Homo sapiens: one gene and its partners. The protein of the gene in region 2 interacts with the protein of the main gene of each other region in a pairwise test. Each region holds a gene or a part of one and is shown on either strand. Other genes may lie near its edges. The genes, in order: CCDC90B, RNF10, BTG3 and COL4A5.

Region 1 (3,757 bases), on a different chromosome or scaffold from region 2:
TTTAACCTAGAAACTCTAGTTTTTTTTCACTTAATTGGAATAATTCTGCACATATTATTTCATATGCTTTTTTCAATTAACATATCTTGAACATTCCCCATATCAGTAAATATTTCTCAAACAGTATCATTTTTAGTGACTATAAAATATTTCATTGTATGGATGGTACATCTATTTAGTTACTTTTGATTGTTCATAATAGTGATATTGTCTTAACTAGGCATTATGAGTGCTATTAATTTTCTTCTTTCAGGAGGTATCCATGTTTCTCACCATGAGTTTCCAAGTCCTGAACCAATGCATGGGTATCAAAAGTTAATTTCCTTTGTTCTAAAGGAGTTATATCCACTGGCCGCCTATCATATCCCTCCTTGGTTGTGGTAGTGAAGAACTCTGAAAGAGAAGACAATTTTTTTCTTTTGTAGTAACTGATAGCTTACAAAGCTACTTTAGCTTACAAAGCATTTTCCCCATCCATTTATAATATAGTTCCAGCTCTTCTAGTTTTGTCATCTCACCCAAGTTAATTGACTCCTCTGAGCCTCTCTTTTATCTGAAAAGTCTCTGACGTTCTTCTGTACACACCAAACATTCAATAAATGTTTCTTTTCCCTCCTTTGGTATTCAGAAATGTTAAGAGTCAGTATAAACTTGTAATAAAACACACATCAAATGCTTTGGTTATCACCACCTCAGCTCTAATTACTGAAAAGCAGAAACTGCACAATTCAATTCTTCTCTGTGCTCAGTAATAGTCTTTCAAAGAGCTATGAAAATTTTTTACACTTAATCCCTGTTTAAAGTAGCTTTCCATACTCCCACTCACTTATATATCCACAGTTTATTTCCTACGTAGTTCTCAGCTCCAACATGAAATTATCTTATTTGCTGTTTGTATCTCTGGATCAGAATGGAAGTTCCATGATGCTTTGACTGTGGTTTTCACTACTGTATCTTTAGCACGTAGAACAGTGCTTTGGCACATAGTTGGGCCACCAAGTTTTACTGTTGATTCAATCAATGAATTTGATTTGAAATCATGGACGTATTTACTGGTATCAACATAAGAACCCTAAGAAAAATTTCTCATTTCTGAAATAACCCTTCTTGTCCTATTTCAATAAATTCCCCAAGTTTTAACCTAGACACAGTAAAGACCTTTTCTATATATTGCTGATGAATTTATTACAAGGTGCCCTGCCCATAAACAACTTTTGGGAAGGTGAAGGAGTTACCTTTACAGAGCCAATGGCAGAATTAGGATTCAGACTCAGGTACTTCTGACTCCAAATCTTACACTCCATGCTGTCTCTCTTATGTATCTTAAGTCACTTAAAATATCTAGATATTTAAAAGGCTGCAACTTCAGGCATTATTTTTCCACTAGTACTGTGTAGGACAAATGTGATTCCTTCTTTATATCCTTCTAGCCTAATGAATATTGATTGAGTGCTAGAACTTGTGCCAGGCATAGGGGATAAAATCATAAGCAAAACCAGACATAAATGATATTCTCACTGATTTTATGGACTAGAAGGCAGGAAACAGATATTGTTTTTTTTAAAAAATCTAACAATAAACTCTAAATTCAAATGATAAAAGATTCATTAAAATACTCCAAAAAATTCTATTTAACTGAAGAGATAAAAGCAAGTAGCTGTAAATAAAGGTGGAGCAATTTTTAAAAACACACATATTAGTACACTGGTCAGTAATCTTTTTCACTTGAATGTCATCTAGAAGGGTAAAGAACTATGCCTTTGTGTGTAAATATCAGACCTAAGGTAGGAGAGAAAAAGAAAAATTAGAGGAAAAAGGGGCAGATTTCAGTAGTTTCAATAACAACTGCATTAGGAGTAATGATGGTACTCTTAGTTACATATTCCTGATTAGAAGTTTATTTGGATTTAGAAAAAAAAAATCAGTAATAATATTTAAATAATATTTTACTGTTTTCACATCTATTACCCCATCCTTAAAATTCTCATTTTATGGATGAGGTAAATTGAGGCTCAGGGCTAAGTATGGATGCTCCTCAGCTTATAAAAGGGTTATGTCCCAATAAATCCATCATAAATTGAAAATATCCTAAGCTGAAAATGCATTTAATACACCTAACCTGCTGAACATCACAGCTTAGCCTGGCTTACCTCAAGCTTGTCGAGAACACTTACGTTAGCCTATAGTTGGCCAAAATCATCTAACACAAAGCCTACTTTATAATAAAGTGTTGAATATTTCATGTAGACACCCAGATGGGCATTTTGTAAACACGATGGGATGCAAAAACAAAACCCAAAAACCCTGGCAATACTAAGTATTGGTTGTTTGCCCTTGTGATCAATGGCTAACTGGGAGCTGCGGCTTGCTGCCCCTGCCCAGTATTGCAAGAATACTGCATTATCGTTAGCTTAGGAAAGGATCAAAATTCAAAGTACAGTTTCTACTGAATGCACACTGTTTTTGCACCATGGTAAAGTCAAAAATTTTTAAGTTAAACTATCTTAAGTTGAGGACTGTCTGTAATTAGTCTGAGATCTTATGGTCTCATAGCTAGGCAGATTAGTACAGTTCCTCTGACTTAGTCAACAAACACTCTGAATACCAGCAGCTTCCTGCTAAATTTGGGATAGAGACCAAATACCTTAACAAGCCAATAAATCTTTGTAGGGTGCAGCTCGTCTCATGTCCTACTATGCTCTCTCTGGTCCTCTGCTTTCAAGGGCTCTTTGATTTTAATTCCACAAACATGCCATGTGCTTTCCCTTCTCAGGGCCTTTGCCTAGCCCCTGCCCTGTTCAGAAAGCTCTCCTTTTCTTTGCCTGCTCATGTTTATCCTTCAGAGCTCAGTCTGAATGTTTCTTCCTCTGGAAAGCCTGATGACTCCTTTAGGTTATGTCTCTCTCATGATGGTTTTTCATAGTACTGCACAGGATTCTTTTGCAAACCCTCTCATAATTTACACATTTATGTGACTCTCAGTTGTCTCCCCAAGAGACCAGCAGTCAGCCAACTATAGCCCATAGACTACCACCGCCTGTTTTTCTAGTTTTATTCATTAGAACTAGATAGTTTTATTAGAACACAGCTCATTCATTTATGGATTAATCTATGGCTACTTTCATGCTACAGTGGCAAAGCAAATAGTTGTGACTGACCTTACAGCCTACAAAGCCTGAAATATTTATTAGGCTCTTTACAGAAAGTTTGTCAACCCCTGCACTAAACTATACAGTCCTTGAGAGCAGGGACCACATCTGTTCTTGCTCACTACTGAATCCCCAATGCCTACACAATTCTGGATGCTCCATAGATACTTGCTGAATGAAAGGCACTGTGCTTGGCATTATGTATACACAATGATGAATAATACAAAGGAGAAGCATTTGGCCCTCCTTGAGAATAAAGGATCAAGAATGGCTATTTGGATGATGGTAGAACTATATTAAATCTGAGAGAAGTTATCCAGACAGGATGAATGAAATCAGCAAAATCTAGGCATGGGCTGCCTTTGCTATTCTCTTGGCTTCTATTTATTATGGGGTTAAGGAGAGCTGAGAATACAGAAGGATATGTAAAACATTATTCCTTATATGTGCTCAAATATTCACATAATATTTTGCTTAGTCCTCCCAATCCTATGAGGTAGGTATTGACACCCACTGGCAGTAGAACTTTGGGTTTCACTCCACTTTGGAAGCCATAAGGAACTGGAAAAACCATTGGATATTCATAGTAGGGTGTCATAATCACTATT
Region 2 (3,757 bases):
GTGGTGGCACGCACCTGTAGTCCCAGCTGTGAAGAGGCTGAGGCAGGGGAGGAGGAAGAGCACTTAAACCCAGAAGTTCGAGGTTGCAGTGAGCCACGATCACTCCACTGCACTCTAGCCTGGGTGGCAGAGTGAGACCCCGTCTCAAAACAAGAAAACTTCTGTAAAAACTCATGTAGGCCGGGTGCGGTGGCTCACGCCTGTAATCCCAGCACTTTGGGAGGCCGAGGCAGGTGGATCATCTGAGTTCAGGAGTTTGAGACCAGCCTGGCCAACATGGTGAAGCCCCGTCTCTACTAAAAGTACAAAAAATTAGTCCGGCGTGGTGGTGCGCACCTGTAATCCCAGCTACTCGGGGGGCTGAGGCAGGAGAATCCCTTGAAACCGGGAGGCGGAGGTTGCAGTAAGCCAAGATTGCACCATTGCACTCCAGCCCGTCTAAAAAAACAAAAACTCATGTAAAGGCCCTTTGTTAGATTTTACAAATAACACATATGTGCCTTGAGGCAGCATTCTTTTTTTTTTGTTTAATGTGTGTGTTAGAAAGCTTGACCATGTTTGCCACCGCCAGTGTCTGCTTTTCTGGCTTCTGCTGTGCGTGTTCGTTTAGCAAGGAAGGATGGGCTTTGTAGCCAAATCCATGCTTCTTCACTAGCCATAATCCACTGCTTGCATTTAGGAACAAATTAAAAGGCAGGATATGTGGAGATTAAAAGGTTAGGAAACTGGATATTGGCTGATTTTTAAAGTTGAAACTAAGCTGCCTTAGGAACGTAACAGCTAAGACCAGTGCTACTACAGCAGATACTCAGGAGCTCTGATGCAGTGACTTCACGATGAGATGGTTGCTCTAACAAAAGGGTACACTCAAGCTCCGCATAATCCCATAAAAAGATTTCTGCAGTATCTCATAAGCTGAACACTTCATATACTTGATTCTGCTGGGAATCATTGAAAGGACCTCTTGAATTACAGAGTACTGAGTTGAGGGGAAAACAAGCGTAAGGTGAAAAGATAGTTTATCTTTTGTCAAGGTGAAAAGAGCAAGAGTTTTCAGTATTCAAATATTTAAGTCACTTTTTTTCTCCCCCTTTTCTACCTCGTGGAAGAAAGCCCTTTGGTTTCTATTCTGTAAACTGTCATTAATGGCCATTTGCTTCCTAGCTACATGATTAATTTCTTTGAGATTTTGTTCCAGTGGCTGGCTTAAATTTGCCCTTCATTTGTACACAGGAAATATGTAAATTTGGCTACCAGGATTTTCTTGATCTTTCCGGCTAGAGTCGCATACCACAGTTTCTTTGCCTGGGCTAATTGCCTGAACATTTATATAACATTCCTTTTCTTGATTATATTCCTACAGCTTCATTCCAGTAGTGTTAATAGGTATTTCTGAGAACATGCAGCAGTAAATATCCTGTGAATATAGCTCAGAGGAGAGAAGGTGGGTTAGAAAGTGGGGAAAGTCATTTAGAGGGAGCAAAGAAAGAGAGGCAAGAGAGAAGGTAGGCCGTTTATGGGCAGGCAGTGGACTCTGGCCAGGAACCAGGCTCTTGTCCCATCCCCCTGGGCCGATAGAACTGCCAGGGAGGTTAAGGGAAGGTCAGGTATTATGAGGCAGTTATTTTGAGGTTGGTGGTATGAAGCACTGCCCTGGCATTCTTCCTGTTATTCTGGTACCAGAAACCAGGTTACTAGTGGTAATCTGCCTTGAAGAATGCCTCTGAGCTGTAAATGGACCTGGAGATTTTAATGGCTTTGAAAATTGAGGTGATTTGAAGCCTTCAGTAAAACCACTTAGAGAAATTAAAAGAATTTCAGGGCCCGTTGGCTGGATTCCTTGGTTTATATGGCTTCATTGGAAGTCTAGTGGGTGCTCTTGACAGGAACGCTTTGGATTTATTAATGATAGGCTTTCAAATCATAGTAAAACTGTGTGTCAGCCACTATGGTAGGCATTTTACAGAAGTTTTCTTTCTTAATCCTCATGATTCTATGAGGAAGTATGGTAGAATATTAGTCCTGTTTCACAGAAAAGAAAATAGAGGCTTAGCAGTGTTAAGAGTGATTTGTCCAAGTAAATTTTTATGAAGTCCTAGGCGGTATTTTTCAATAAGCTTTGTATAATCACACTTAGCAAGCAGATAACTTACTGGCATGTGCATCATTCCTGATACCACCTCTCTCTTCCTTTCATTCAGAATTACTAATTTCAGCTGGATTCAATTTGTTGTCAGTTGATTCTGTAGTAAGGCCATATGTTGCCCCTCTGGAGGTGCTTGTCAACTACTCTGGATGATGGGTAAGCAACTTGCTTGTGATTACAGCATGAATCAGCAGCAGAAACTTGCTGACTGGTATTCTGACCTCTAGGCCGAGCCACCTGTTAGAACTAGAGCTAGAAATGAAGATGCCAAGTAATTTAACTGTGAAAAACTTGTGGCCCTTAATTTGGTAATGGGGGGAGGCTGAGATATACCTACTGCTACTTGGTGGAGACCTTTCCATTAGGGAAATGTGGAACAACTGAGAAGCTGGGTTAAGTTTTTAAGTCATTTATTTGTCGACTCTGGAGCCTGAGTTTAGTGGTCTTGTCCATTTTGGAATGTGTCTTGACAGTAGTTCTTGGCAGTTGTTCTCAGTGGTGGCTGTGCATCAGAATCTCCTCAGGAACTTTTTTTTTTCCCTCAAGACAGTCTTGCTCTGTCACCCAGGCTGGAGTTCAGTGGCGCGATCTCAGCTCACTTTAACCTCTGCCTTCCCGGTTTAAGCAATTCTTCTGCCTCAGCCTCCTGAGTAGCTGGATTGCAGGTGTCCACCACCACACCGGCCTAATTTTTGTATTTTTAGTAGAGATGGGTTTCGCCATGTTGGCCAGGCTGGTCTCAAACTCCTGACCTCATGAGGAACTTAAAAAAAAAAAAAATAGGGGTGTGTGGGGCCCCTTCCTAGGAATTTATTATCTTTTTTTTTTTTGTAGAGATGGGGGTCTCACCATGTTGCCCAGGCTGGTCTCAAATTCCTGGCTTCAAATGATCCTCCCACCTTAGCCTCCCAAAGTGCTGGGGTTACAGGCATAAGCCACTGTGCCTGGCCTTTTTCTGATTCTTTAAGCCTAGATTGAACCCGTGGGTCCTGGGCATTCATAATTTAAAAAGTCTGTGCAAGTGATTCTGGTGTGCAGCCAGGATTGAGAACCACCACTCTGAGATTTAAAACTTCACCCATAGTTCCTTCTCCCAGGAACTTGATATTTTTTGTTTTCCAAAATCTAAAGTGGATCATCTTATCACTCCTGTTCTACCCTCGAGTTTTTCCCATGTATATCCTGGCAAGTTGTCCACAAAACATTTCAAAAATAATACTCTGAATTTTATCTCTGGGTCCCAGGCCTGATGGTACCTTCAACCTTTAGCTGCCTTTTGCCTGGGTCTAGAGATAAGAGCCAGTCTCTCACTTGACATATCTGTCTTCATACCCTTAGGTAACTGGAAGACGAGAAACGAGTTGATTTTGGCAACTAAAATCACTAATCATGATGTGGTCAGTTGTTATGTGTTTTGGAAATGAGCAGTTTACTGTCTTATCAGTGAGCATTTCTGTAAGCATTATGAAACTGTTTCCTTGCCAGTGTGGTAATAAGTGAAGAAATGAAGACAGCCTTCTTGCTGAGTGCCAGTTTACTTTCTTTTTTTTTTTTTTTTTGAGACAGAGTTTTGCTCTTGTTGCCCAGGCTGGAGTGTAGTGGTGCAGTCTC
Region 3 (3,757 bases), on a different chromosome or scaffold from region 2:
TTCTGTCTATATAGATTTGCTTATTCTGGATATTTCATATCAATGGAATCGTACAATATGTGGTCATTTGTGACTGGCTTCTTTCCCTTAGTGTGATGTATTCAAGGTTCACCCATGTTGTAGCTTATATTAGTACTCATTCGTTTTAACTGCTGAATAATATTCCATTACATGTATATACCACAGTATTTGTCCATTCCTTAATTGGTAAACATATAGATTGTTTTTACTTTTTAGCTATTATGAATACTGCTGTGGGCATTTCTGTGTTCAAGGTTCACCCATATTGTAGCTTGTATTAGTACTCATTCCTTTTCATTGCTGAATAATATTCCATACGTGTGTATAACACAGTATTTGTCCATTCTTTAGTTGGTAAACATATTGTTTTCACTTTTTAGCTATTATGAATACTGCTATGGGCATTTCTGTACAAGGTTTTGGTGTGGACATATGTTTTCATTTCTCTTGGGCAAATAGAAGTAGAATTGGCCGTGTCATATGATAACTCTGTGTTTAACCTTTCTAGGAACTGCCGAACTTTTCTGTTATAAAATAGCTCTACAGTTCTAGATTTTAAAGTAGACTTTTTTTATGTTTTAAAGTTCAAATCATTTCACAGAATTTTAAACTTAGATTATTGCAGCTAAATATTGACACACACAGTAACATCTATGTCGTATCATTTATTATAGTGCTTCTCTTTTACTGATAGGTGTGGTTTTATTTTAGCCAACAGGAGCAACGTGCTATCTTTATGGAATTTCTTCATGAAGCTAAGTGATAAGATTTTTAAGTAGTATTTTATAATAAGGCCTTTATGGCATAAAGATAAGTAGATTGTTCTCTACTTCAGATATAAGCCAAAGAAATACAAGATAAAATTGGAAGGAGGAAGGGGAGAGCTGTAAAGGAGGTATATCTTACAGAGCTTCATCTTCCCAGTTTTTATATTTTGTTTTTCTGAGAAAACATGTTTTATCTTTGCAGGGAAAAAAATGAAGAATGAAATTGCTGCCGTTGTCTTCTTTTTCACAAGGCTAGTTCGAAAACATGATAAGTTGAAAAAAGAGGCAGTTGAGAGGTTTGCTGAGAAATTGACCCTAATACTTCAAGAAAAATATAAAAATCACTGGTATCCAGAAAAACCATCGAAAGGACAGGCCTACAGGTAAAGGATTAGATTGGATTAAGCAGAGGCTGATCAACCCCTGAGGTGGGTTCAAGGCCGGATGATTGAAGGGTGTGCAGACCATGCCTACAGGTGTTTCATCTGCAAAATATAGAACTCTGGGGTGTTTGTATATTTTCTCCTTACTCATTTTAAAACAAGTATTTGTTGGCGGAGTGGTGGAGTCCCACTGCCTGGACACAGGAGGCCAATGCTATGGGGTCAAAGGAGTTAGTCTTTTGTGGTTATAGCCTGGCTCCTAACAGTGCATTTCTGTTTATCACAAATACTTAGGGATTTTCACAATTCTAGAGGACCCCTAATAACACATTAATGGGCATGGTAGGAGTTGAAAGAAGTGAATCTTGCATCTAAAAGTAAATTACATGTTATATGTTCTTTGAAAAAAAAAAAAGTATGGAAAAAGGGAACTAAGATTATCAGACACCTGATATGTCGTTAATACAAGAATAATCTCATTTATATATTTGTGGTAGAAGTCAGTGTAACTATTTTCTAGATGAATGTGACTCACCTGTGATCCACGACTAGTAAATAATGGCTCTGGGATTTGCTTTTCTGGGAGTTTTTTTTTTTTGTGGTATTGTTTTTGCTCTGTCACCCAGTCTAGAGTGCAGTGGTATAACCATAGCTCACTGCAGCCTCAAACTCCTGGGCTCAAGCAATCCTACTGCCTCAGACTCCAAAGTAGCTAGGATTATAGACATGTGCCAACACACCAGGCTAATTTAAAAACAAATTTTTTTTTGTATAGATGGGATCTTGCTGTGTTACCCAGGTGAGTTTCAAACTCCTGGCCTCACGCGATCTTCTCCCTTTGCCTCCCAGAATGTGAGGATTACAGGCGTGAGCCACCATGCCTGGCCAAGGTTCTGGGATTTGAACTCAGGTCTACATGACCCCATGTTTTCATGGGCTTTCTGCACACCACAGTGTTACCACTGTTTTGGCACTGAGAACGAAGGTAATTCTCACTTGGAGCTGTCTTTTGTACTCTGCTGTATAAGGTACATTTACAGCTTAAAGTAAAGAAGAGCAGACTCCTATAAAACATGCCCTGGCATGCTCACTGTAGTATTTATGTGACTGCTCAGGAACCTCAGTTGAGAATGTTCTGCTAAACTCAGCTGCCAAACATTGTCCCATTTTGTGGATGTGGCCACGAGAAATAAAAGTGGAACAGTGACTATAGTGATAACTACAGAAATACTCTTTTATTTGTGTATATTGATGTCCCCAAAGTTTCCTACACAAATCAACACTTTGTGCTTTGATGTCAGAAGGACTTCCTTTCTGCCACTGGGCTCTTGCAAGTACAGCACTATTCAAGGAGTCTAAAAAGGAGGTAAACATATTATTTGCTAATTTCTCATGTACTGAAAGTCAAGTGAGCTTGTGTTCTATTGACAAGAAGAGAATCAAAATAGTTTATTTTCCTTTTCATTTTTAATCCAAAGAGGTTTCCAGTAAATTGGAAAATGAATTAAAATAGAAATGTGCACGCTAACACAGGCTCAAGTCATTTTTTATCTTATCTCTTGATTATCTTAATTTTTTTTTTGCATATTTTCATTTCCAATAGAGTGAACAGCTTTCGTTAAGTTAGAACTGTTGAGGCTTTTTACTCTGATTTAACTGACATTGGATGAAGGCTTTTTGGAAGTGCCAAGCCACCATACTATTACTGAAAAAGGAGGCACTGTCAAGTAAATATTTAAAGGTCAGACAGTGTACAATTTCATTTCCATTAATTCTAAAAACTTGAGAAAAAAACTGAAACGATTAAATTGGCATGTGATCAGAAGTATCATTACTGAGTCATTTTAAAGCTGTATTTGAAGTAGAAAAAATAGTGGGTTGTTACTATTATAAAAATGAATAGAATATAAGATTAACCAAGTTAGTAGAGACTTCAGTCTGTAGAATAGGTGGAGTGTTCTTTCTCTTACAAAATGTTTGTAAGTTGAAATTGTTTTTCTGCAATATAAATAAGATACTTGTAGAGAGCAATTTGGCAATATTATCAAGATCTATAAAAATATTCATACCTTTTGAACAGTAAGTCTCCCAAGAATCTATTCTAGAAGTATAATTAGAAATGCAGACGAACATGTATGAATATGGATGTCTCTTACACTTTGTAATTGCAAAAATGGAAAGAACTAAACTGTCAACATTAAGTAAATGATAGAATATTTTTATGCAACTTTTAAAATTTTGTTTTTGAAGAGTAGTTAATGGATAAGTAGTATGTAGAGTGAAAAAAAATAGTACAAAACATGTAAGGTATGCAGATTTTGTTGAAGCATAGTCTCTGTTTAAGCATCTATATTTATATATAATTTGTAAGCTTAGAGCCTGTATCACCTTAATTGTAGATAAGAAAAACACATACATCTAAGATATATCTTTTTATCCTTAACTGCTTTTGGTCCCAGAGCACATGGGATCTTTCAAATTACCCTATACAATATTAGAATCTATAGCATAAGACCATGTTTTTAAAAGGACTAAGCAGTATTTTACATACTAGAAAATAATTTTTCTCACTTTGCCTTTGTTATA
Region 4 (3,465 bases), on a different chromosome or scaffold from region 2:
CTATAAATGAGAGGGAAAGCTACAAAAAGCAAAATCTCTGGAATTAGTGTTTGCGACTATAACAGAAGGGGCACCTTTGAGTGTACACCATGTAGAAGAATCTGTGGGGCTGTGATATGGTGTTTTCAGTTACAATTACTCATTACTGACTTTATGCATGGGACTAAATGAAAAAATAGAGCTAAAATTTGCGATTGGTGGCTATCCAGAATCAATAAAATAATTAGATAGTTATCATTGTTTGGATCCTAAGTTTTACCACCAGAGATTCTAAGCTTTAGATTTTACATAGGTCCATATTAGGATTTAGAATACTCAAAATTGTTTTGGTTGTTTTATCTTTTAGCTGTAACACAAATTTTACTATGGAAGTTTTTAATATTTTATTTTTAACCAGTCCTTGACTATTTTAGAGAACTATGCGTGTTCATTCTTAATCATTAAGAATATTAGGTCACTAACCTGCTTTAAACATTATTAATGAATTCTTCCCCAAATAGAAGCCAGTTGTTTCCTTTCTTAGCCATTAACACAATGTTGTCAAGAAATTTATTATCTTGGAAATGTCTTCCAATAGGTAGTTTTCTTCATTGGAAAAAGTTTACATTACTATGTTTTCTATCTACTAACAGAGTGATCAAAGCGTGGAGAAACTGATTCCCTGGGAAGAGATGACTTGTTGATGTGCAGATTGGTAATCTATCTGTAAATGAGCAGGGGTTTTTTCCACACAGGCTGAAGAGATACACAACAGACCATCCTTACAACATATATCTTTAATTAAATTTATATTGGTGGGTTTAAAAAACATTAAGTCAGGAGATGATAGCTAGGGAAATAAGGTATCCTGTGAGTATTTATAACAAAATATTTAAAATTTAAAAAGAATAAGAAACATCAATTGGCTTTTTGTAACTTAAAAGAGACTAACCAAGTGTTGTTTCCCAGTTCTGTACAAGCAGAGGCCACAGGAGGATTCTTACATAAGAAGCACAGGGAAAAGAATTGTTAATTCTGCGTGTGTGTTTTTGTTTCTCAGAATTGTTTGGAAGAACTTTGTCCAGTCAGAAATGAGTAAAAACAAGATGTAAGAAACATTAAAACAGGGGGCATATGGTCTTAAGAGATAATCTTGGAGAATATAGCAAAAGACAAATTGCTCCATTAGATATTATAATTTGGTATGTAACATGAACATTTAAAATTCTGATTAAAGTGACTAAAAGGGTTTGTTTTTTAAAAAAAATCAAAACAGAACTTACGGGATAAAACTCAAAATAAATTTACTCTCAGTAGTAACTTGATGTAGGAATATAAGTCCTCTCACTTTGATAAACATGAATATAAAATATTGCTGTCTGTATTCTAGGGTTTCCTACATTTTCTGTAAAGAGTGATTCATGCTATGTCATATGTAAATGACTCAACATTTTGAGCTAAAAGGCTGTTCACAATATACACATTCTTTACTTACAAAGCAAAATAAGCTTAACACCTTTATATTAAAAACCCGGGATACAGCAGGATTAGTAGCACCGTGAAAAATAATTCTTCCCACAAACTGCAGTCTTTTATTTTACTCAATGTGACTCTTCTCTTAATTGAATTTTTAATGTACCATTTTAGTAACTGGGCAAAATATATAATTTTCATCTTATAATTCTTGGAGAAAGTCATTCTGGACCCAAAAAGTAAATTCACTTCCTTATTTCTTTAGTAGAAAAATAATAGAGACTTTGCTCTGGCGCATTGCTGAGGTACATCTGAATCTTCATGGTTACTAGTCAGCATGTTATCTTGATCATATATAGTAGCACCATTGACGGCAGCAGTAGTAAAGTTGGGGACAATGAGACACTGCATCCTAGGAATTTTATATATATATATATCACATTTTAAAACACAAAAGGAATTCTTCAAAATGTTATGTCCTCTTCATGCACACTTGACATCGGCTAATTCGTGTCCTCAAGTCTCCTGCTTTCAGCGTTTCTGACTGAGGTTTACTGGGAAATAAGAAATAAGACAATCAGATCCACATTTTCTGGTATTTCAATTCTGTTACTGGTTCAAATTTATAACTAAACATTTTTTGTGTGTTAAGTAGCTCTCTTGGTGACTTAATGGTTTACTTTTCAGCAATATGATCTAATGCAGTGACTAGTATGGTTTAAGAGCCATTAGTGGTCATAGATATTTTGTAACGATTCTCCCCACCACTATTATCTTTGTATATTTGTGTTTCCCTCTCATTTTCTATCTTTTTCTCTTTCTCTCATACATTTTTCTAATATTCACAGGATGAGGGAAATCTGGGCAACTGATGATGTTATGATAGATAACAAGGACCATAAGAAAAATACCAAGTAGTGATAACCCAAAAGCAACACATAAAAATAAATTTAAACTGAAAAAAATCAACAGAATGAAGTATCCTGAGGTACATACATTACGTATGTCTTGCTCATTCAAACCCTTAAATGAGAATCTTTAAAATATCCTGGGAAAGGAGACCACTGGACTGAGAGGGAAAAGACAGACTGTAACTTCAATTCCTGGGGTGGTCTCAATCTAGTTGAACAGCTGCTGACTTATTAGGAAGGTCACATAACCTTTCTTTATCTCTGTTTCATTATTGAAGGATTACTACTAAGCTATCACAAACCAAACTCACCTAATATTAATAATCAAGTCTGTTTTTCTGACCTGAGTCATGTATATGAGAAGAACAAGCAAGAATAAAGTACACAATCCAATAAATTCCTAACATTTGTTGAGGATAAACCATCCATAAATTGTCTCTTTCTTCCCTAGCATCTCTGAAGGAAGCTTTGGACCTGAATTAAAGCTATAAGCACTTTACCTGAACATGTCTGACACATCTACAGTTGCCAGCCAAAAGCTGTAGGAGTTGGCATAGTAGTTACAGGTACCCCTCCCATGACATTCGATGAAGGGAGCTGAACGAAACTCTTCCAAGCAGGAACCAGGGGAGGCTAGGGCTTGACCTGAGCCTTCTGCCCCTGCACTTGTATGCTATAAAAGACAAGGAAAAATGTGCCGCAATACCCATGTGCCATAATAGCTTAGTGAATATCCAAAGATGTGTGCTGAGCTTGGCCAAATTCAAATCTAGTGAAGGAACAGGCCCAGAGGTAAGACAATAGTATCCACACCAAGGGTAGTCAAAAAAAAGTAATAGGCAGATTATGAAAATATGTTACAAAAAATGTGTGAGGGGGAACACAGTGCTTGGATAGAAGCTGTTTGAAGTTTAAGCTTCTTATTATGCAAATGACAGGGATTCCTCATATTGGGAAGAAATGTAGATGGAATGGACAGTCAGCTATGATGACAAATGCAAGGAAGAGTGTAAAATACCATCATGAAGGAATAACCAATCCACAGAGAATCCCATCCCTGAGGACAATGGGGAATCTGGATCGTCTGACTGTGAACTGCGAT

Evidence for each region.
Region 1: the proteins of RNF10 (region 2) and CCDC90B interact in a two-hybrid assay, tested with the Homo sapiens proteins (one large-scale study listed by BioGRID and IntAct).
Region 3: the proteins of RNF10 (region 2) and BTG3 interact in a two-hybrid assay, tested with the Homo sapiens proteins (one large-scale study listed by BioGRID and IntAct).
Region 4: the proteins of RNF10 (region 2) and COL4A5 interact in a two-hybrid assay, tested with the Homo sapiens proteins (one large-scale study listed by IntAct).

What each region holds. Positions count from the first base shown.
Region 1 is NC_000011.10:83,279,868-83,283,624, forward strand, and holds part of CCDC90B (coiled-coil domain-containing protein 90B, mitochondrial isoform 1 precursor), read right to left. Parts: intron 394-3,757; coding exon 274-393; intron 1-273.
Region 2 is NC_000012.12:120,537,167-120,540,923, forward strand, and holds part of RNF10 (E3 ubiquitin-protein ligase RNF10), read left to right. Parts: intron 1-3,757. UniProt on the Homo sapiens protein: E3 ubiquitin-protein ligase that catalyzes monoubiquitination of 40S ribosomal proteins RPS2/us5 and RPS3/us3 in response to ribosome stalling.
Region 3 is NC_000021.9:17,606,386-17,610,142, reverse strand, and holds part of BTG3 (protein BTG3), read left to right. Parts: intron 1-990; coding exon of another isoform or gene 991-998; coding exon 999-1,171; intron 1,172-3,757. UniProt on the Homo sapiens protein: Overexpression impairs serum-induced cell cycle progression from the G0/G1 to S phase.
Region 4 is NC_000023.11:108,694,838-108,698,302, reverse strand, and holds the end of COL4A5 (collagen alpha-5(IV) chain isoform 2 precursor), read right to left. Parts: coding exon 3,382-3,465; intron 3,037-3,381; coding exon 2,864-3,036; intron 2,007-2,863; coding exon 1,925-2,006; 3' UTR 758-1,924; downstream 1-757. UniProt on the Homo sapiens protein: Type IV collagen is the major structural component of glomerular basement membranes (GBM), forming a 'chicken-wire' meshwork together with laminins, proteoglycans and entactin/nidogen.